3 linked regions of the Homo sapiens genome follow. The protein of the gene in region 3 purifies or fractionates together with the protein of the main gene of each other region. This does not show direct contact. Each region holds a gene or a part of one and is shown on either strand. Other genes may lie near its edges. The genes, in order: MATN4, DHRS2 and GMEB1.

Region 1 (7,105 bases), on a different chromosome or scaffold from region 3:
AGTTCCCCACTTCACCTTTCTGGGCCTCAGTTTCTTCATCTGTAGGATGTGGCTTAGTTTTGGGCGCATGCAGAACTGCCCATGGGGTGTTTAATTTGGAAAAATTATTTGAAAACATGGAAAAAAACCAGGAAATTTTACATAAAAATCCCTGTTTAGTATTTCTCTTGAAAAACCAGGGATCTGCTGACATCCAATTCGCAGGGGCATGGCCTCATTTGGATGCAGCTACCTGCCCAATTTAGGAGTGATAGGGGCTCTTTGGGTCTCCAGCGTCCTAACCCAACCAGTTCATCCATGTTCCCTGCCTGGTCCCTGCAGGCTTTGAGTTTGCGACGCTTCCTTGCCCCCTCGTCAATGGGTAATACCGCCTCAGAATAGCCCTCAGATCTGTAAGATGAGGGAATTTGTGAAATCTCCTAGCCCAGGTGCTAGGCACATGCCGGGCGAGTGCATCTGTCTAATCTGCGTTTGCTGTGCTGGGCGCTGTTATGTCGGCATAGCGGCATTTCCCCTGGGTTTCCTAGGGGGTCTCCTCGGAGGTGAGGCTTTGCTGACCTAGGAGAGTCCTCCCTGATCTCCCCGCAGGTCCCAGGTGTCACACTGGGCCCCTGGATCTGGTGTTCGTGATTGACAGCTCCCGCAGCGTGCGCCCTTTCGAGTTCGAGACCATGCGGCAGTTCCTCATGGGCCTCCTCCGAGGCCTGAACGTGGGTCCCAACGCCACGCGCGTTGGCGTGATCCAGTATTCGAGTCAAGTGCAGAGCGTCTTCCCTCTCCGCGCGTTCTCTCGCCGCGAGGACATGGAGCGCGCCATCCGCGACCTGGTGCCTCTGGCGCAAGGCACCATGACGGGACTGGCAATCCAGTACGCCATGAACGTGGCCTTCAGTGTGGCCGAGGGCGCGCGACCGCCAGAGGAGCGCGTGCCGCGTGTCGCTGTCATCGTGACAGACGGGCGGCCCCAGGACCGCGTGGCCGAGGTGGCGGCACAGGCGCGCGCCCGCGGCATTGAAATTTACGCGGTGGGGGTGCAGCGCGCGGACGTGGGCTCCCTGCGCGCCATGGCATCGCCCCCGCTAGACGAGCACGTCTTCCTCGTAGAGTCCTTCGACCTCATCCAGGAGTTCGGCCTGCAGTTCCAGAGCCGGCTGTGTGGTGAGTTAGGAGGGCGCTGGAGTGAAGCTCGAACTCTCAATCCAAATGCTTGGATTCCTTTCCCACCACAGTAAATCCCATCCCGTGGGGGTGGCCCCGCGATTTCCAGGTAGAGTTGCCCTGACCTACCGCAGGCTGTGTCAGATTTCAGCTCTGACCACTTCTGCTCAGCCTCCATCAACAAGGAGCAACCTATAATTTCTTGCCCTACCCGCCACAGCTTACCACAGGCTTAATGTCAAATTCCAGCACCAACCCCCTGCACACACGGAACCAGTGATTCTCAAAGCTAAGAGGGATCGGCTGCTCCAAAGAGTCGTGGCCCTCCCACATGGGGATGACTTCTCCCATTATCATCTTAGCTCCTCCCACAAATGCTGCAAGATCTGTTCTGATCTGTTTTGAGTTTATTCCGCCCACCTCGACTTAGCACCTCTCCACCTTCCTACCCACTCCTGCCCCTGTGTAGTCCTGTCCCAGCCCACTGACGTGTCTAATTGAGTGTCTCCTCTTCTGAGCCTACTCACAGGGGCTCCTTAAGCCTTATTCTTTCCCTAAGCCCTCTCACTTGGTACGGCCCTTCTCAAATTAGTCATTTCCTTCTGAAAGCCATTTGAGGGTGATGCCTGCCTCTGACCCCATCCCCATCCAGCTCTCTCTTGTTGGAGGCTTCTGCCCATCTGTTCCCTACTGATTCTAGTCCTGTGTGTCCTCAGGGAAGGACCAGTGTGCTGAGGGGGGACATGGTTGCCAGCACCAATGTGTCAATGCCTGGGCCATGTTCCACTGCACCTGCAACCCAGGCTACAAGCTAGCAGCAGATAACAAGAGCTGTTTGGATGACAGCTATCCCTGTCCTGCAATCTCACTGCTCCTGAACCTTCTTTGGCTCTCCATTGCCCCAACATCAGACCAATGAGTCTGGAAGGGCCTTTGGCAGTAAAAGCACACCTCCATCACTTTACAGGCCTAAGAAAGAAAGGTATTGCCTGGGGTCACATAAGTCCCTGGTGGGAGCCCACAGTTCAGTGTGCTTTCTGCCCTCTTTCTCCCTGTTTTCAGGCCAGTCTCTAATCAACCTCCCAAACTTGTTTCTGTTTTCTTCTTTTCTTTTCTCTCTCTCTTTTTTTTTTTTTTTTTTTTTTGAGACAGAGTCTGGCTCTATTGCCCAAGCTGGAGTGCAATGGTGCGATCTTAGCTCACTGCAACCTCCGCCTCCCGGGTTCAAGTGATTCTTGTGTGTCAGCCTCCCAAGTAGCTGGGATTACAGGTGCTGGCCACCACACCCAGCTATTTTTTGTATTTTTAGTGGAGATGGGGTTTCACCATGTTGGCTAGGCTGGTCTCGAACTCCTGACCTCAAGTGATCTGCCCGCCTTGGCCTCCCAAAGCGCTGGGATTACAGGCGTGAGCCACTGCGCCCGGCCATTTCTGTCTTCTTACAGGCACATCCTTACAGTTTCTCTTCTTAGATACTGTTGGGGGGTCTTCAATTAGGTGGGTGTCCCCCCTCATGCCACCCATTCTTGACTCTGCACCTCAGCTCTTTGTGTGCTGCTCACCTGAGCTGCCCTTGCCACTCCCCTCTGCCTTTGCAAATCTTTCAAGACTCTCTCTTTTTAAGAGATAGGGCCTTGCTATGTTGCCCAGGCTGGTCTCACACTCCTGGGCTCAAGAGATCCTCCCGCCTTGGCCTCTCAAAGTGCTGGGATTACAGGTGTGAGCTGCTTCTTCATTTTTGTCTTCTGAAAAGCTATGGCATAGAATACCTCGCTTATTCAATTCAGTTTTTTACTGAGTACCAAGTTAGTATTAGACATTGTGCTAGGAGCATTACACATGTTATTATCTCTCAGCCTCACAACAACCTGGAAAAAGAAATCATGTAATCCCAATAACCCAGATGTCAGCTGGGGTCTTCTTGTTTCTAGAAACTAAAAGTTGGCTTGAACTCTGATTTGATGACTGTTTAACATTCAAATCTCTCTCCAAGACCTCTGGAAATCCCCCAAGTGCTTATCTTCTGGTTGTCACCTCTTGCTGTGAGCCTCTGCTAAATTCATTTGATTTATGGATCCTCTCTCATTTCTCAACCCTGCACATGCTGTTCTTGTTCCATGCATGTTAATCAACCTCTTCGTTGGTTTACACACTTGTGTATGCAGGGGCATACACAAGCGTGTATGTGCTAAGTAACTCATAGCGCGTGCACACACACACGAAAAACTCATTATAATTGAATATTAGACAGCTTTGTTTCTGAAAGTCCTCAGTCAGCCTAGTACAAGGGATTTTTCACAGGCAGCCTCAACCCACAGAGTTACTCATCTTCATACTGGCTCTCTTGTTCTTTTTTTTTTTTTTCTTTCCTCTCTCCACTCTCATCTCCTTTCCAGGAACCCCAAATACTCACTTTTTTATACAGGGTAATTATCTTCTCTCCAGTCCAGCTCTCGGCCATCTTTGCCTATCCAGATCATCAAGATGCTCAACAGGGCAATAGTTCCCCATCTTCCATGGAAGGAAGCTGTGAATAGCAATCACTGTCTTCCATTATATTCCCATTTTGCAAATAGAAAAATGGAGGCTCAAATAGGTAAAGTGGCCAAACCTGTCCTCTGTAAGTCAGAGAGCATCTTGAGGACAGGGGCCCTGACTAATTAGGTCAGGATTTTTGGGGTTGGGGCCCAGGCGTAGGTATTCTTTAAAATTTCCTTAGGTGGTTGTGCTACCAGAGCTGAGAAGGGCAGTCCTGGGCATAGACTGACCCCATTTCTTCCTCAGCCATTGATCTGTGTGCTGAAGGGACCCATGGATGTGAGCACCACTGCGTCAATTCCCCAGGCTCCTATTTCTGTCACTGCCAAGTTGGCTTTGTACTCCAGCAGGACCAGAGGAGCTGCAGGGGTGAGCAACACCCCCACCCTCCCACCACACCCTGGACTGTGGCCTCCGAGGGCTCCAATCAGAGGCAACATCTTGCTGTTTCTTCCCTCCTGCCAGCCATTGACTACTGCAGCTTTGGGAACCATAGCTGTCAGCATGAGTGTGTTAGCACCCCTGGTGGGCCACGGTGCCACTGCAGAGAGGGCCATGACTTGCAGCCTGATGGGAGGAGCTGTCAGGGTGAGGAGGGCTCTCCTACATTTGTGGGAGGGGTAAGAGATCTTAGCTGGTGGGGTCCATCCTGACTCATCCTGACCTGTCTCTCCTTTCAGTCCGGGACCTTTGCAATGGCGTGGACCATGGCTGTGAGTTCCAGTGTGTGAGCGAGGGCCTCTCCTACCGCTGCCTGTGCCCCGAGGGGCGGCAACTTCAGGCAGATGGCAAGAGCTGCAACCGTGAGTGATGGGCGGGAGGGTGTTCTGTTGGCTTCTGCCCCATTGCCCACATTTGGAGTGTCCTTGACTTTGCCATTGCTGTGGCCCCTAGGCTGTGGTGTGAATGTCTGTGTGTGTTGTGGGGGTGACATTGGAGGGTGTGCCATTCCCTCCTTCCATCTCTTTCCTACAATCCTCTACTCTGCTGTCAATGTTAATTTAAAAATACATATTTGATCACATTCCTCCTTTGTGCACAAGCCTTCTGTGGCTCACCAATGACTACAGGAGAAAGATCAAATGACTTACCCCTAAGTATTTCAAATGGTGAGCAGAACCACATTAATGAATAATGAAATCAAATTACTGGGTTACAACCAACATTAAAAAAAAAAGAGTGGAAGACAATATAGAGTTTACTGCCTGTAGAAAGAGTTATATTATTTCTGAAATTTTAGTTCTGTGTGAAATGTCTCATGATGTATTGTCATTATTATTATTTTTACTGTGGGCTGTGATAAAAATTTTGAAACCACTGCCTTAGGTCATCACGATCTAGCTTCAGCCAACTCCATCTGCCCATCTCCTGCCACACTTGAACATTTCAGTCTTACTGGCCTGCCCCTCCCCGGATGTGTCAGGATCTCCCCAGATCCCAAGCCTCTGCACGTGCTGCATCTCACCTTCTAGACTGTCCCTTACTGCCTTGGCAAACTCCTACTGATCTTTCAAGACTGTCTTAGATCATTCAGGCTGCTATATCAAAGTACTGTAGACTAGACATTTAGTTTTCACAATTCTGGAGGCTGAGGAGTCCAAGACCAAGGTGCCAGCAGATATGGTGTCTAAAGAAGGCCTGTTTTCTGATTCTTAGATGGCACACCTTTCAAAGCCTCCCCACGCCAACACACACACACACACACACACCCCTACACACACACACCCACACACACCAATTTTCTTGCTGTGTCCTCACATGGTGAAGACAGGAAGCAAGCCCTCTTCGACTTTTTTTTTTTTTTTTTTTTTTGAGACTAAGTCTCCCTCTGTTTCTCGGGCTGGAGTGCAGTGGCGCGATGTCGGCTCACTGCAACCTCTGCCTCTGGGGCTCAACTGATTCTCCTGTTACAGCCTCTGGAGTAGCTGAGACTACAGGTGTGCCCCACCATGCTTGGCTAATTTTTGTATTTTTAGTGGAGATGGGGTTTTGCCATCTCAGCCAGGCTGGTCTCGAACTCCTAACCTCAAGTGATCTGCCCGCCTCAGCCTCCCAAAGTGCTGGGAGCCACCATGCCTGACCTCTTCAGACTCTTACAAGGACAGTAATTTTACTCATAAGCGCTGTACCCTCATGTCCTCATCTAATCCTAATTAACCTCCAAAGATCTCACCTCCGGAGACTATCACATAAAGGCGTAGGGTTTCAATAAATGAATTTTGGGAAACACACTCATTCAGTTCATAACAAAGATCAGATAGAAGGCCATCATCTCCATGCAGCCTTCCTTAACAACTCCAGGAAGAATACACTATTCCTACCTTGGGATCCCTGCATGATCTTCTCTTCTAGCACTTTCCTTGACCAGAGCACATAGCATGTCTGACTTGCTCTGCTCTGTCCTCATGGAACAGGATTATGTTTTAATTATTTCAAAACCTTTGAAAACCTCCCCACGCCAACACACACCACATTTTGGGCCTAGCAACTTTCCTGGCTCAGAATAGGGGAGGTGACATTGTAGAGTCATTCAGGAGCATGGGTTTTGGAGTCAGATGGACCTGGCTTCATGTCTTGGCTCAGTCAGTACTAGCTATGAAATCTGGGGCAATCACTTTATCCATCAGAACCTCAGGTCATAGAAAATGGGGACAATATTCAAGCTTATTGGGAGGATTGAGAATATATATAAGCACTTCACCCAGTACCTACCACATGGTAAGCTGTCGGTAAATAATGTTTTTGTTATTATTATTGTTAATACTGGTAGAGTGCTTAGAAGTGTGCCTGATACATAGTAGATGATCAATAAATGGTAGTTATTGTGGTCATTACTATGATTGTTGTTAAAAAAAGATGCTTTTAGCAGAGTGGTTTGTTCTAAGCACTGAATAAATGTCAAGGGCGATGATGAGGGTGATGATGATGGTGATGGTGATGATGATGGTGATAATTATTATTACTTAGCACACTGCCTGGCACAGGAAGGACTCAGGAAATGTTGTCTGTTATATAATAAATGTTTGCGAATGAACGACTAGATGGATAGACAGCTGCTGCCAGTCCAGAATCTGGTCCCTCAATTCAAGCTTTTCTGGCTGTGCAGGGTGCCGGGAAGGCCACGTGGACCTTGTTCTGCTGGTTGATGGCTCCAAGAGCGTGCGTCCACAAAACTTCGAGCTAGTGAAGCGCTTCGTGAACCAGATTGTGGACTTCCTAGATGTGTCCCCCGAGGGCACGCGGGTGGGGCTGGTGCAGTTCTCGAGCCGCGTGCGCACCGAGTTCCCTCTGGGTCGCTACGGCACCGCAGCCGAGGTGAAGCAGGCGGTCCTGGCCGTGGAGTACATGGAACGCGGCACCATGACAGGGCTGGCGTTGCGGCACATGGTGGAGCACAGCTTCTCCGAGG
Region 2 (7,378 bases), on a different chromosome or scaffold from region 3:
CCTTCCACCGCCTGCCCCCTCACCTTGGCCACCAGCTGCTCCCGGTCCTCAGCCTTCCCCACGTGGCACACAATGCCCGCCACACTCAGCCCCTCCCCCTGCAGCTTGGCCATGGCCCGGTCCACGTTCTGCTGCTTCCGGCTGCTGATGACCACGTGGGCCCCGTCCCGGGCCAGACGTCGGGCGATGGCAAAGCCGATCCTGAATGCAGAGATGGAGGGCAAAAGTCAGCCTCAGCCTCTCTCCACTGTCCTTCCTCTACCCAGCTCTGGAAATCAGCAAATAAGGCTGGGTCTTGCTTTAAAACCCTGAGTCCTTGTGGAAGCCACAAGGACCCTGTGAGGGGCCAGGACCCATGGGCAATCCAGCACTCACCCACTGGTGGACCCCGTGACCACGGCTACCCGGTTAGCCAGGACGCCCTTCCTGTCTATCCCGGTGCTGCTCATCCTCACAGAAAGCCTAGCACAGGGATGAAACCAGCCCTGGTAGCCCCGGGCAACTGCTGACAGCATAGTGGTTGGTGTCTGAGATGCTTCCTGCTGAATCAGGCCTGGGGGAAAGAATCAATTTCACTTATCACTGATGCCTCAGTGAGCATGAAGGTAATCTACCCTCCTCCTTCCTCCAGACAGACAAGGCCAGCAACAGAAAGTGGCAGAGAGTCAGGCTGGTTAGGGTAAATTTCAAACATGTGAACCTCAGGTCAGGAAAGCAATCCATGAAAACTCCTAAGCTATAAAACTGGGGAAATTATTCACAAATTAAAATGTGAGACTCAACATTCATTAGACAAGGGTGATTTTTCCATCCATTGCATAGCAAACATTGAGCACTGGCAATGTGTCAAGCACTGGGCAGTAGAGGCGGGGACACCTTAGTAAACGACAGACTCAGCCCTGGACCCCAACCATGCAGCTTCCCAGTTAAATGAGATGCCAGGCACCAACAAATAATTATACCAGTTATTAATTAACTGCTTCTGTGTCTGGAATTGGTGGGTTCTTGGTCTCGCTGACTTCAAGAATGAAGCCACGGACCCTCGCAATGAGTGTTACAGTTCTTAAAGATGGTGTGTCCGGAGTTGTTCATTCCTCCCATCCGGAGTTGTTCATTCCTCCCGTCCGGAGTTGTTCATTCCTCCTGGTGGGTTAGTGGTCTTGCTGGCTTCAGGAGTGAAGCTGCAGACCTTCGCAGTGAGTGTTACAGCTCTTAAAGGCAGTGCGTCTGGAGTTGTTCATTCCTTCTGGAGGGTTTGTGGTCTCACTGGCCTCAGGAGTGAAGTTGCAGACCTTCGTGGTGAGTGTTACAGCTCTTAAAGGCAGCGCGGACCCAAAGAGTGAGCAGCAGTGAATCAAGATTTATTGCAAAGAGCGAAAGAACAAAACTTCCACAGTGTGGAAGGGGACTCAAGCAGGTTGCTGCTGCTGGCTCGGGTGGCCTGCTTTTATTCCCTTATCTGGCCCTGTCCACATCCTGCTGATTGGTCCATTTTACAGAGAGCTGATTGGTCTGTTTTATAGAGAGCTGATTGGTCCATTTTGACAGAGTGCTGATTGCTGTGTTTACAAACCTTTAGCTAGACACAGAGTGCTGATTGGTGCATTTACAATCCTTTCGCTAGACACAAAAGTTCTCCAAGTCCCCACCTGATTAGCTAGACATAGAGTGCTGCACCCTTGCTTGTCCTCCTAGACCATGAGGAGGACCGAGAAAAATCGGATTTAGTGGCCCTTACCGACGCATTCTCGAAAACCTGTTAGAGTCCTAAGCATTCTCCTGTTAGTATTGGGAACTTACCCGTGTCCTATAAAGATGTTATGCCCCAAAAATGAAGAAGAGTAACCTGAGGGAGGGAAGGGGTCTCCAGGGTTGGAAAAGTGACACCTTTTGTCCTCACTTATATGAATAGGAAGGATACAATTTCTGAGGCTCCCCCTATCCTAGCTTCAGGAATAGCTTTTGTTAGACCTGCTTATCTGAGGAGGGATTCTAAAATTCCAGATAGTTCCCCCTACAACTGGGCTTTGGGCAAAAATTATGTCTTTCTGATTGGTGAGCCCAGGTGCCTAAAGAAGGTAACAGAGTCCTGAAATTTTTACTAGAAATCATTCTTATAAGAGAAATTAGAAAAGCACCAGAGACAGGGAGTGGTTTTTTAGAAGTGGGACTAGCCTAGGAGAAGAGAGGAGAGAGAAAGTTTGTCTGGCAGGCATTAGGACCCAGCGAGCAAGGGTCAGGATAGATAGGATAGATAGGTGAGTCTCACTTGGGCAACATGCCTTTGAGAGTTCCGCTCATGGCCGCAGGGTCAACCAACTTGTTGTGGGGACTCCGGAGCTGAATGGCTTTCCTCTCTGTTGACCCTCAGCTCAGCCCAGAAGTACAGGAAAAGCGGAAGCTGGTTCCAGGCAAAACAACATTCCCAACTCCACAGAGCCAGGGGTTGTTAGAGATCCCTTTCCCAGAAAGCCTGACACCCACGTTTTTAGTCCAGCGGCTGCGCTAGTCACTTTTAACTGGCCGACAGGTGCCCAGAATTTAGCCACCGAATTCTAAGGAAAAATAGGACAGAATAGCAAATGAAAGGGATCTGATGGTACTCACCACTTGGCGATAGGTGATAGTCTCACCGCTTGGTGATGGTCTCACCACTTGGCAATAGTCTCACTGCTTGGCAATAGTCTCACCACTTGGTGATAGGTGACAGTCTCTTCAAAGTCACCAAAATGTGTACGGAATTGATGGGTTCTTGGCCTCACTGACTTCAAGAATGAAGTTGCAGACCCTTGCGGTGAGTATTACGGTTCTTAAAGATGGTGTGTCCAGAGTTGTTCATTCCTCTCGGTGCATTCGTGGTCTTGCTGGCCCCAGGAGTGAAGTTGCAGACCTTCGCGGTGAGTGTTACAGCTCTTAAAGGTGGCACGGACCCAACGAGTGAGCAGCAGCAAGATTTATCATGAAGACCAAAAGAACAAAGCTTCCACAGCGTGGAAGGGAACCAGAGCAGGTTGCTGCTGCCGGCTCAGGCAGCCTGCTTTTATTCCCTTAACTGGCCACACCCACATCCTGCTGATTGGTCCATTTTATGGAGAGCTGATTGGTCCATTTTACAGAGAGCTGATTGGTCTGTTTTACAGAGAGCTGATTGGTCCGTTTTGACAGAGTGCTGATTGGTGCATTTACAAACCTTTAGCTAGACACAGAGTGCTGATTGGTGCATTTACAATCCTTTAGCTAGACACAAAAGTTCTCCAAGTCCCCACCAGATTGGCTAGACACAGATTGCTGATTGGTGCATTTACAAACCTTTAGCTAGACACAGAGTGCTGATGGGTGCATTTACAAACCTTTAGCTAGACAGAAAAGTTCTCCAGGTCCCCACCGGACCCAGAAGCCCAGCCGGCTTCACCTCTCAATGGCACACACTGCAGGACTTTGCGGCACCTAGCCCAGGCACTCCAGCAGCCCAGAGGGAGCTCATCCCCCAGTCAGGCCCAGCTGGCACCGGCCGGCCCACGGAGCCCCTGCTGGCCGGTGAGTGCCCTGTACAGTGTGGGCTCCTGCCGGCGCCTCTCCCTCCACACCTCCTGGCGAGCAGAGGGAGCTGGCTTCGGCCTTGGCCAGCCCCAGAGAGGGGCCCCCACAGTGCAGTGGTGGGCTGAAGGGCTCCTCAAGTGCAGCCAGAGTGGATGTGGAGGACGAGGAGGCACCAAGAGTGAGCAAGGGCTGCTAGCATATTGTCACCTCTCACTTCTAGTTGAAAAAGCAAAATCAACAGAAACTCTCATTCACTGCTGGGTAGAGGGTAAGTACAATCACTTTGGGAAATGATTTGGCATTATACGGAGAAGTTGAAAATAAAGATCTCTGACTCTGTAGAGGGAACTTGCATCCTGCAGACAGGAGGTCATGTGTGCACCAAGAGACTGTACACACAGGTTCAGAGAAGCCTGCTTAGAATGTTCCAAACTGGAAACAAGTCTGTATTAGTTTGTTTTCACACTGCTATAAAGAACTAACTGAGGCCAGGCACGGTAGCTCACACCTGTAATCCCAGTACTTTGGAAGGCCAAGGTGGGCAGATCCCTTGAGCTCAGGAGTTTGAGACCAGCCTGGGCAACAAGGTGAAACCATGTCTCTATAAAAATTAGCTGGGTGTGGTGGTGCATGCCTGTAGTCACAGCTACTCGGGAGACTAAGATGGGACGATTGCTTGAGCCCAGGAGGTCAAGGCTGTGGTAGGCTGAGATTGCACCACCGTACTCCAGCCTGGGAGAGAGAGCAAGACCCTGTCTCAAAAAAAAAAAGAACTACCTGAGACTGGGTAATTTATAAAGAAAAGAGGTTTAATTGACTCACAATTCCACAGGCTGTACAGGAAGCATGGCTGGGAAGGCCTCAGGAAACTTACAATTAAGGCAGAAGGTGAAATGAAGCAGGCAGAACTTACACAGCTGGAGCAGGAGGAAGTGAGAGCAAAGGGGGAGGTGCTACACACTTCCAAACAACCAGATCTCATGAGAACTCACTCACTATCACAAGAGCAGCAAGGGGGAAATCTGCCCCCATGATCCAATCACCTTCCACTAGGCCCCCTCCTCCAACATTGGGGATTACAATTCGACATGAGATTTGGGCAGGGACACAGACCTAAACCATATCAAAGTCTATATGCCTATTAACGGTGGAATGGATAAACAAACTGTGTTGCATTTCTATAATGGAATACTATACAATAATGAAAATGAATGAGCTGAAGCCACACTGAACAACATAAAGGAATCTTAAAAAATATACTGTTGAGTAAAAGAAGTCAGACACAAAAGAATACATATTATTTGAGTCCACAAGTTTCAACAACAGGTAAAACAATTCTATATTGCTTAAGAAGGCAAACAGGTGACAAAAATACAGAGAAATGCAGGGCAGTGATCACCACAAAAGTGAGGAGAGTGGGTATTTCCGCAGTAGAGCTGTGGGGAGGCAGTTATGATTAAGAAGGTGCAAACAGGCTAGGCACGGTGGCTCATGCCTGTAATCCCAGCACTTTGGAGGCCAAGGCAGGGGGATCACTTGAGGTCAGGAGATGGAGACCAGCCTAGCCAACATGGTGAAACCTCATCTCTACTAAAAATACAAAAATTAGCCAGGTGTGGTGGCGCATGCCTATAGTCCCAGCTACTTGGGAGACTGAGGCAGGAGAGTCGCTTGAACCCAGGAGTTGGAGGTTGCAGTGAGCCAAGATTGCACCACTGCACTCCATCCTGGGTGACAGAGGGAGACTCCGTCTCAAAAAAAAAAAAAAAAAAAAAAAAAAGAAGGGGCAAACTAAAGAGCTTCTAGCGTGCTGGCAATGTTGTATTTGATAAGCAAGTGATGCCTACATGATGTCCATGAAGATATATTATATCACCTATGTATGTGTATACTTTTTACGTATGTGTTATAATTCACAATTTAAAAGTTTAAAAGTAAAGATTACCTGCTCATGGTAAATTTTAAAATTCAAGCAGCTTAAAACTTAATTCAAAAATTAAATCCTCCAATTCCCTTCTCAGAAGAAAATTTGCCAGCATCTCAGATACTTTCTCAAAGTTGTTCTATGCAAAGGGCTTTGCTTTAAATAAGCAAAACTTTCTGATTTTAAACATTCAGTTCACAGAGGGCTTTCATGGAGTATCCTAGCCAGGAAGCAGAGGATCAGTAATGAGTGTCATGTGAGTTCCTTGAACACAGGCTCCACTCCTCCCTCTTGGGGCCCAGGGCTTGAAACACAGGAGTGCTCAATAAGGCTGGTGAGCTAATCAGGCTGGGAAAGTTGCAGGTAGATAGGACCTGCAAGACTGAGGAGGATTTTGACAGGGGCAGCAACAGGATAGATCCTCCTGTCAAGGGGAACAGGCTGAGAGGAAGAATGGAGGGTGTGGATGTCCAGGGTGTTTGGGAGAGAGCAGGGATGCCTATGTGCCTGGAATACAGAGAATGGGGGGCTCATGCCTGAGAAAGCAGACTGCAGTTCTGAATGACTCCAGCAGGCCGGTGCTGATTGAAGCTCTCTGAAGGGATGTCCGTGGAGCTGAGCCAGTTAAACCAGCCACAGACATCCAGGCTGCTGTGTGGAGACCTGTGCCCTCAGGAGGCCCTTCAGAAGGGAACGGTGTGCCTCTGTAGCTATGCGCAGATGTGAAGGCAGGGAGAGGATCTGGCATGGGAGACTCAGGTATGAAGATATATCACCATGAACTGGAAAATGCCAGGGATGCTTGTCTAGGAGACCCTCTTTCACCCAAATCCTAATTTCCCAGCTCCACATTCATGTTAGCCCAGAGGCTCCTGCCTTCCCCTATGTGGGATTCCCATTGGCCTGCCATTCCCTACTCTAATGGAAGAATCTGATGAGCTTCCTGTTGAGAGAGGGAGGGAAGGAGTGGTTCCAGCAAGGGGTTAGTTAGCAGGGCACTCAGGGACTTAGCAGTGTGCTTTTCATGTGGGACAGGACAGTGCCAGGAAGGTGAAGAGAGGCAGGCTCTGGCAGCTCTGGGCCAAGGGGCCGACAGATGTGAACTTGCAGGAGGCTCTGGCCTGGGATGACTCTGTCTACAGACCCTCATCAGTTCCAGACATGCTCTGGCCACTCCATCACCAAGGGACTCCTGGTTACTAAGCAACCCCTGCCTTACCTACTGCATCTCCCCTTGTTCCTTAGCAACTCTTGCATAACTCAGTTCCTTCGAGTTAGGGGTCTGTATCTATAAATTATAAGTGAATGGGTGCTGCTCAGGAATTGTGAAGAAACTGTCTATTAAATATCAGTCTGTACTCAGTGTCAAAATGCAGGCGACCAAATGCTTTGCTTTGGGAAGGAAGCCTTGATTTCCGATTTATATCTCTTCTGATATTGTATTTCCAAAAACAATCTTTGTAGGTCCTAGACCTCCTCCCTCTTTCCTCCCAGCTGCTTCCACTCTGCCTGCTGTTGCTCTCGCTTACTCTCTCACGCCTCTCTCCTTCCTGCAAGGTCATATTTACAGCCTTGCATTACGTGGAGACAAGGGGTTTCAGCTCCTGATTGGTCTACCTTTTCTAAACAGGACACCAGATTCTGAACATTGTTATGCCCCCCCTGGGGAACTCCTCTCCTTCTGCTGCGAGCTCAGATTAACCCCCTTTTGAGGTTGAGAGGAATCCAGTCTCCTTGGCTGGGAGGACAGCAGGAAAAAGAGGACTCGCCTTTTGTCGGGACAGGACGCCCCCTGCTGGAAGGCTAGAGTAACAGCACCTGTGAGATGTGTTCCTAGCTCAGCAAGTCTGGCTGTCCCCTTTCTGGCCTCTAACAGTTCTTACCAAGCCCTGCTTGTCTGAACTTGCCTCAATG
Region 3 (7,037 bases):
AGCCCAAAATATTTATTTATTCCACACTCTATTATAACTTTTGAAGACTGTGTAGTCGTTTTATTTTTTATATATTTATTTATTTATTTTTTAGTGAGACATAGTCTCACTCTGTCACCCAGGCCGGAGAGCAGTGGTGCGCTCTCGGCTCACTGCAACCTCGACTTCCGGAGCTCAAGCGATCCTCCCACTTAAGCCTCCAGAGTAGCTGGGACCACAGGCAACTAGCTCCACCACGCCCATCTAATTTTTGTCATTTTTTGTAGAGACGGGGTTTCACCATGTTGCCCAAGCTGGTCTGGAACTCGAGCTAAAGAGAGGCCGAGGAGGCCGCTCACTTTGGGAGGCCGCCTGTCTCGGCCTCCCACAGTGCTGGCATTACAGGCATAAATCACAGCGCCCGCCAGAAAACTAACAAAATTAGGCGGGCGCAGTGCCACGCACCTGTAGTCCCAGCTACTCAGGAGGCTGAGCTGAGAGGATCGAGTTTGCAGTGAGCTGAGATCCCGCAATGCACTCTCACCTGGGCAACAGAGGGAAACTCTGTTCCCCCAAAAAAATAAAATAAAAAAGAAATTTCCACTCTAAACTACAGTTTTGTTTAAAACGGGGGGAAAAATCCAAGTTAAAACTTTATTATTACTTGAGGCCAAAACTCCTTGATATCCCCTTTATTTCTTCTCATGCATTCAGTGGGTGATCCATAGTGCTACAAGATGTAATGAGGTCAACAAGTAAATTATGCAGAAACACTGAGGGAAGTATCCAGAGGAGGTGAAATTCTAAGTCACAGACTGGAGACTATTATGTAGATGTTTGAGGGAGCGATGGGATAAGAGTTATTTGGAGTCATCCCGCTACAGTCCGGTGGACTTTGGCTTAGGGCAAGACCAAAATACTGCCCCCACAATAAACCCAATGAAGCTGAGTAGAAGCTACCTATACAATGTATTTGCTGAAGTAAATAGGAACCCAAAAAAAATCATTTAAGTAAGATATTAAATATACATCCTTGATATAAGGCTCTCAAATTAGGAGACGGTGCAACCATTGAATAAGTTTCCCCCGCCGGGCGCAGTGGCTCACGCCTGTAATACCAGCACTTTAGGAGGCCAACGCGGGCGAATCACAAGGTCAGGAGATCGAAACCATCCTGGCTAACATGGTGAAACCCCGTCTCTACTAAAAACACAAAAAAATTAGCCTGGTTGGGCCAGGCGCAGTGATTCACGCCTGTAATCCCAGTACTCTGGGAGGCTGAGGATGTGGGATCACCTGAGGTTGGGAGTTCGAGACCAGCCTGGCCAACATGGTGAAACCCCGTCTCTATTAAAAATACAAAAATTAGCTGGGTGTGGTGGCGGGCGCCTGTAGCCCCAGCTACTCGGGAGGGTGAGGCAGGAGAATCGCTTGAACCCAAGAGGCGGAGGTTGCAGTGAGCTGAGATCGCGCCATTGCACTCCAGTCTGGGCAACAGGAGTGAAACTCCGTCTCAAACAACAACAACAACAACAACAAAATTGGCTGGTGTGGTGGCACGCGCCTGTAGTCCCAGCTACTCGGGAGGCTGAGGCAGGAGAATCGTTTGAACCCAGGAGGCGGAAGTTGCAGTGAGCCACCACTCCAGCCTGGGCGATAGAGTGAGACTCCGTCTCAAAAAACAAATAAATAAATAAATAAATAAAAAGGGTCCCCAAATGCACTTTGGTAACTATTAGAAGAGGCAAGGAGGAAGAAGATAATCCCTCAAGACTAGAATTATGTCTGACAGTCTCTTTTCCTAAAACCCGTCTTGATTGGCCTAAACAGACACCAATCAAGGCCCCATCTGTGTCTACTAGGAAGTGGTTTTGAGATTTCTCTCATCTTGAGAGAATCCAGGGCTGCGCCTGCTCTGCTGTCTAGGTCAAGACTTCACCCTCTTGTCTTGTGGATCATCCTCCAAAGACCCTCGGGTTGAGATTTTGCCTTCATCTCTCCTGCCCCTCAATTAGATAACACCTGGCCAATTCCTGTCATTTCAGAAAGCGGGAACACCTTAAGCATCTTTCCTCAACGATCTCTGCTTCTCTCAAAAAGATAGGTTTCTCCATCCCCTGACCGAGCGGGTTACTTTGTTCTCCACCTAGACATCAAGAGGCACCTAGACACCTTCCATCCCCTCAGGTTTGGACGCTGCTCTTTCGTACTTCAGGAGGCTCTAGGAGTCTTCCTACCACGCGCTCATCTGTGGGGAGACCTGGGCCTGCTCACTTCCCCTTAGAGCTCCTCTTCCTTCCCTGCCTTTGGAAAAAACCTGCCCTTTTTTCCCTTGTTCTGAGTGGCCGAGGCCTCTACCGCGCCCCTCGGGATAAGCTGGACTCTGCTCTCCTCAGAAGAACCCACTCTGTACTCTTGCTCTCCCGCCAAGGCTCCGAGAGGGTCTCCTCCCAGGCGGGCATCCGGGCTTCCAGCACCTATCGTCCCCCTCCCACTGGGCAGGACCCAGGCCTCCAACCAGCTCCTCATCCAAGGGCCCGGTGCTCCCCGGACCCCGCCTTTGGGGATACCCCAGGCTCCCCGGACCCCTCGATGGGGTCCTGGGCGCCTGGCCCTCTCAGTCCGGAGTCACTCCGGCCCCTCCTGGCCCCTGAGCCGAGTACTTCCGGGCCCCTCGGTCCGGGGGCGCCGGGGCCCCCCCAGTGGTGGACTCGCCGGTTCCCGCCGCCCTGGTCTGGGGCCCGAGCCCCGGCGGCGCGGCCGGCTGCGCTGGGGGCGGCCCGGCGGCTCGGGCGGACCCAGCGGCAGCGTCCCCCCACCCCCCCGCGGCGCCGCGACGTCCGCTCGCTCCCCGGCGGCGGCGGCGGCACGCACAGGGCGTGGGGAGGCGCCCGCGGAGGCAGCAGCCCCCCGCCCCCTGCGCGCCCGCCCGCCCTCGCCGGCCGCCGCGCGGCCCCCGCGCCCGCCCCCCCGCCCCCACCCCACCCCGCGCCCGCGCGCCCACCCCTCCCCCTCCTCACCGTCTCCGTCGGGCGGGCGGGCGGCGAGCGGCCAGGGCGGGCAGGCGACGGAGCATGCGCAGAGGCCGCCACGGCAGCTACCGCCACCGCCGCCGCCAGGCCGGGCTTCAACACTTCCGGCCGCCGCCGCCGGAGAGCTGGCGCCTTAAAGGGGACGCGTCCCTATTGCCGGTCCCACCGAGGATTAACCTTAGCCAAGGGATTTGGGCCTTACCTAAGCAGAATTCTTTCGCCCTTGAAAATCAGTGTTGGAAAGGTCGCTAGAGACCCCAGTAACTCTCCTTCCCGCACTCATAGATGAGGAAAATAGGCCCTAAATGAAAGAATCACCTCAACCACAATTGAGGGCCAAGCTAGCTTTCTCGACTCCTCTGGAGGACTCTACTCCATTTACCTCCCCAAATCCTGTTTTATGAAGTTTACATCTTATCGGACCCTTCAAGTTACAATCCAGCTATCAGTTTGCAATCAGAAGATCTGCATAGATCAGTAACTGGTCACGAGTCCTTGAGCAAGCCCTAAGCATTGTCTGACCCGTGCCTGTTTGCCAAGTTTTTCCTGCTTGTGAGTTTCTGGGTTGAAGTCTTGACTCCCCTGCTGGAAGTGTAAACGACTCTGGAGGAATTTCTTGACAGCTCTAAACCTGTTTCCGATAAGACATAATGTGAGTGCTAAAGAAGGTGATACCTGCATGAAAAGTGCTTCAGAGAGTTCCTGGGGTCAGTAATAGTAATTAACAAGTATTAAGACCTTTATTTTTTATTTATTTATTTATTTTTTTAGACAGAGTCTTGCTCTTTGGCCAGGCTGGAGTGCAGTGGCGCGATCTCGGCTCACTGCAGCTTCAGCCTCCTGGGTTCAAGTGATTCTCCGGCCTCAGCCTCCCGAAGAGCTGGCACTAGAGGCGCGCGACACCACGCCCGGCAATTTTTTTTTTTTTTTGTATTTTAGTAAAGACAGGATTTCACCATGTTGGCCAGGATGGTCTCAATATCTGACCTCATGATCCACCCGCCTGGGCCTCCCAAAGAGCTGGGATTACAGGCGTGAGCCACCGCGCCCGGCCGTATTAAGACCTTTCTATGGCCAGGTGTGGTGGCTTACGCCTGTAATCCCACACTTTGGGAAGCCGAGGCGGACAGATCACTTGAGACCAGGAGTTCGAGACCAGCCTGGGCAACATGGTGAAACCCCGTCTCTACTAAAAATACAGAAATTAGCCGGGCGTCGTGGCACGCGCCTCTAGTCCCAGCTACTCAGAAGGCTGAGCCAGGAGAATCACTTGAACCCGGGAGGCGGAGGTTGCAGTGAGCCGAGATCAGGCCATTGCACTCCAGCCTGGGCAACAGAGTGAGACTCTATCTCAAAAAACAAACAAACAAAAAGACCTTTCTATGGCCTATGGCTTGGTGAAGATGCTTCTGTCTTGTATAATCCTCACAGCAACCCTACTAAGTAAGTTTCTCTTTTTTTTTTTTTTTGAGACGGAGTCTTGCTCTGTCGCCCAGGCCGGAGTGCAGTGGCGCAATCTCGGCTCACTGCAAGCTCCGCCTCCTGGGTTCACACCATTCTCCTGCCTCAGTCTCCTCAGTAGCTAGGACTACAGGCGTCCGCCACTACGCCTGGCTAATTTTTTTGTATTTTTTAGTAGAGACAGGGTTTCACCGTCTTAGCTAGGATGGTCTCGATCTCCTGACCTTGTGATCCGTCCGCCTCAGCCTCCCAAAGTGTTGAATTACAGGCGTGAGCCACCGCGCCCGGCCCTTCTTTTCTTTTCTTTCTTTTTTTCTTTTTTTTGGTGGGGGGGACCGGTCTGGGTTGATCTCCCAGGCTGAGTGCAGTGGCGGGATCTCGGCTCACTGCAGCCCCAGCCTCCAGTGCTCAAGCAGTCCTCCTGCCTCAGCCCCCGGAGTAGCTGGGACCACAAGCAGGAACCACCATGCCTGGCTAATTTTTACATTTTTAGTAGAAATGGGGTTTTACCATGTTGCCCACTCTGGTCTCTAACTCCTGGGCTCAAGCAATCCTCCTGCCTTGGCCTCCCAAAGTGCTGGGATTACAGGTGTGAGCCACCATAATTGTTTGTTTATTGATTGATTGATTTGGAGACGGAGTCTCGGTCTGTGCAGTGGTGCGATCTTGGCTGCCTCCCAGGTTAAAGCGATTCTCCTGCCTCAGCCTCCCGAGTAGCTGGGACTACAAGCACGAGCCACCACGCCTGGTTAATTTTTTGTATTTTTAGTAGAGACGGGGTTTCACCGTGTTGGCCAGGATGATCTCGATCTCTTGACCTCATGATCTGCTGCCTTGGCCTCCCAAAGTGCTGGGATTACAGGCATGAGCCATCGCGCCCAGCCAATTTTTGTATTTCTGGTAGAGACAGGGTTTCACCATGTTGGCCAGGATGGTCTCAATCTCTTGACCTCGTGATCCTCCTGCCTCAGTCTCCCAAAGTGCTGGCATTACAGGCGTGAGCCACCGTGCCTGGCCATTTATTTTTATTTAGTTATTTTGGAGGATAGAGTCTCCTCCTGGGCACAAGTGATCCTCCAATCTTGACTTCCCGAGTAGCTGAGACTATAGGCTTGCACAACCACGCCCAGCTCCTTTTTGTATTTTTCATAGAGCTGGGGTTTCACCATGTTACCAAGGCTGGTCTCAAATTCCTGAGCTCAAGTGATCCACCCACCTCGGCCTCCCAAAGTGCTGGAATTATAGTCGTGGGCCACCGTGCCTGGATGATAACTGATTTTTTTTTTTTTTTTTTTGAGATGGGGTCTCGCTCTGTCGCCAGGCTGGAGTGCAGTGGCCCTACAATCTCAGCTCACTGCAGCCTCTACCTTCTGAGTTCAAGGGATTCTCCTGCCTCAGCCTCCTGAGTAGCAGGGATTACAGGCATGTGCTGCCACACCTGACTAATTTTTGTATTTTTGGTAGAGACGGGGTTTCACTATGTTGGCCAGGCTGGCCCCAAACTCATGACCTTAGGTGACCCACCCGCCTCGGTCTCCCAAAGTGCTGGGATTACAGGCCACTGTTCCTGGCCTATAACTGATATTTTTTTTTTTTTGAGACAGAGTCTCACTCTTGTCACTCAGGCTCGAGTGCAGTGGTGCCATCTCGGCTCACTGCAACCTCTGACTCCTGAGTTCAAGTGATTCTCCTGCCTCAGCCCCGGAAGTAGCTGGGATTACAGGTCCCCACCACCACACCTGGCTAATTTTTGTATTTTTAGCAGAGACGTCGTTTCACCGTGTTGGGCAGGTTGGTCTCAAACTCCTAACCTCCGGTGATCTGCCTGGAGCCACCACTTCTGGCAACTGATTTTTTAAAAGACAAAAACTTCAAGCATCATCTGGTCTCTCCTCCAGCCTGGAACAGTGTCTCTGGCTGTCCACCGACTCTCCATACTCCACATGCCCACAACTGAATTTGTTTCTTTCCCCACCCACCTTAGATGTCTTCAACAAACCTGCTTCTGTCCTAGTGTCCCCCACCTCAGGGAATGTTGCCCTCATCTCTCAGTCACCTCCCAAAGACCCCTAGAATATCATCTCTTCTCTAACCCCCACTGGTCCAGATCATCATCATCTGCCTCTGTCACAGCCAGTGCCTCCTAATTGGTCTCCCTACTTCCTGTCTTGCTGCCTTTGAGTCTTCATTCTTAATTCTTTTAGTGGCCTCCTATCCCCTTTAAAAAAAATTGCTTGTGAACTCCCCATCATGGTCTATAGGACCTGGCACTGGGATCCTTTCTTTACTTTCTTTCTTTCTTTTTTTTTTTTCGAGACGGAGCCTTACTCTGTCACCCAGGCTGGAGTGCAGTGGCGCAATCTCGGCTCACTGCAACTTCTGCCTCCCAAGTTCAAGTGATTCTCCCACCTCATTCTCCCAAGTAGCTGGGACTACAGGCACATGCCACCACACCTGGCTAATTTTTATATTTTTAGTAGAGATGGGGTTTCACCACGTTGGCCAGGCTGGTCTCGAACTCCACCTCAGCTTCCCAAAGTGCTGGGATTACGGATGTGAGCCACT

What was found.
Region 1: the proteins of GMEB1 (region 3) and MATN4 purify together in Homo sapiens (affinity purification with mass spectrometry; 2 studies listed by BioGRID and IntAct, with this or other methods). This does not show direct contact.
Region 2: the proteins of GMEB1 (region 3) and DHRS2 purify together in Homo sapiens (affinity purification with mass spectrometry; 2 studies listed by BioGRID and IntAct, with this or other methods). This does not show direct contact.

Annotation. Positions count from the first base shown.
Region 1 is NC_000020.11:45,298,281-45,305,385, reverse strand, and holds part of MATN4 (matrilin-4 isoform 1 precursor), read left to right. Parts: intron 1-588; coding exon 589-1,158; intron 1,159-3,942; coding exon 3,943-4,065; intron 4,066-4,161; coding exon 4,162-4,284; intron 4,285-4,376; coding exon 4,377-4,499; intron 4,500-6,802; coding exon 6,803-7,105. UniProt on the Homo sapiens protein: Major component of the extracellular matrix of cartilage.
Region 2 is NC_000014.9:23,632,002-23,639,379, reverse strand, and holds the start of DHRS2 (dehydrogenase/reductase SDR family member 2, mitochondrial), read right to left. Parts: upstream 3,017-7,378; 5' UTR 2,608-3,016; intron 987-2,607; exon of another isoform or gene 963-986; intron 554-962; 5' UTR 516-553; coding exon 376-515; intron 202-375; coding exon 24-201; intron 1-23. UniProt on the Homo sapiens protein: NADPH-dependent oxidoreductase which catalyzes the reduction of dicarbonyl compounds. Displays reductase activity in vitro with 3,4-hexanedione, 2,3-heptanedione and 1-phenyl-1,2-propanedione as substrates.
Region 3 is NC_000001.11:28,664,802-28,671,838, reverse strand, and holds the start of GMEB1 (glucocorticoid modulatory element-binding protein 1), read right to left. Parts: upstream 3,056-7,037; 5' UTR 3,000-3,055; intron 2,622-2,999; exon of another isoform or gene 644-2,621; intron 1-643. UniProt on the Homo sapiens protein: Trans-acting factor that binds to glucocorticoid modulatory elements (GME) present in the TAT (tyrosine aminotransferase) promoter and increases sensitivity to low concentrations of glucocorticoids. Also binds to the transferrin receptor promoter.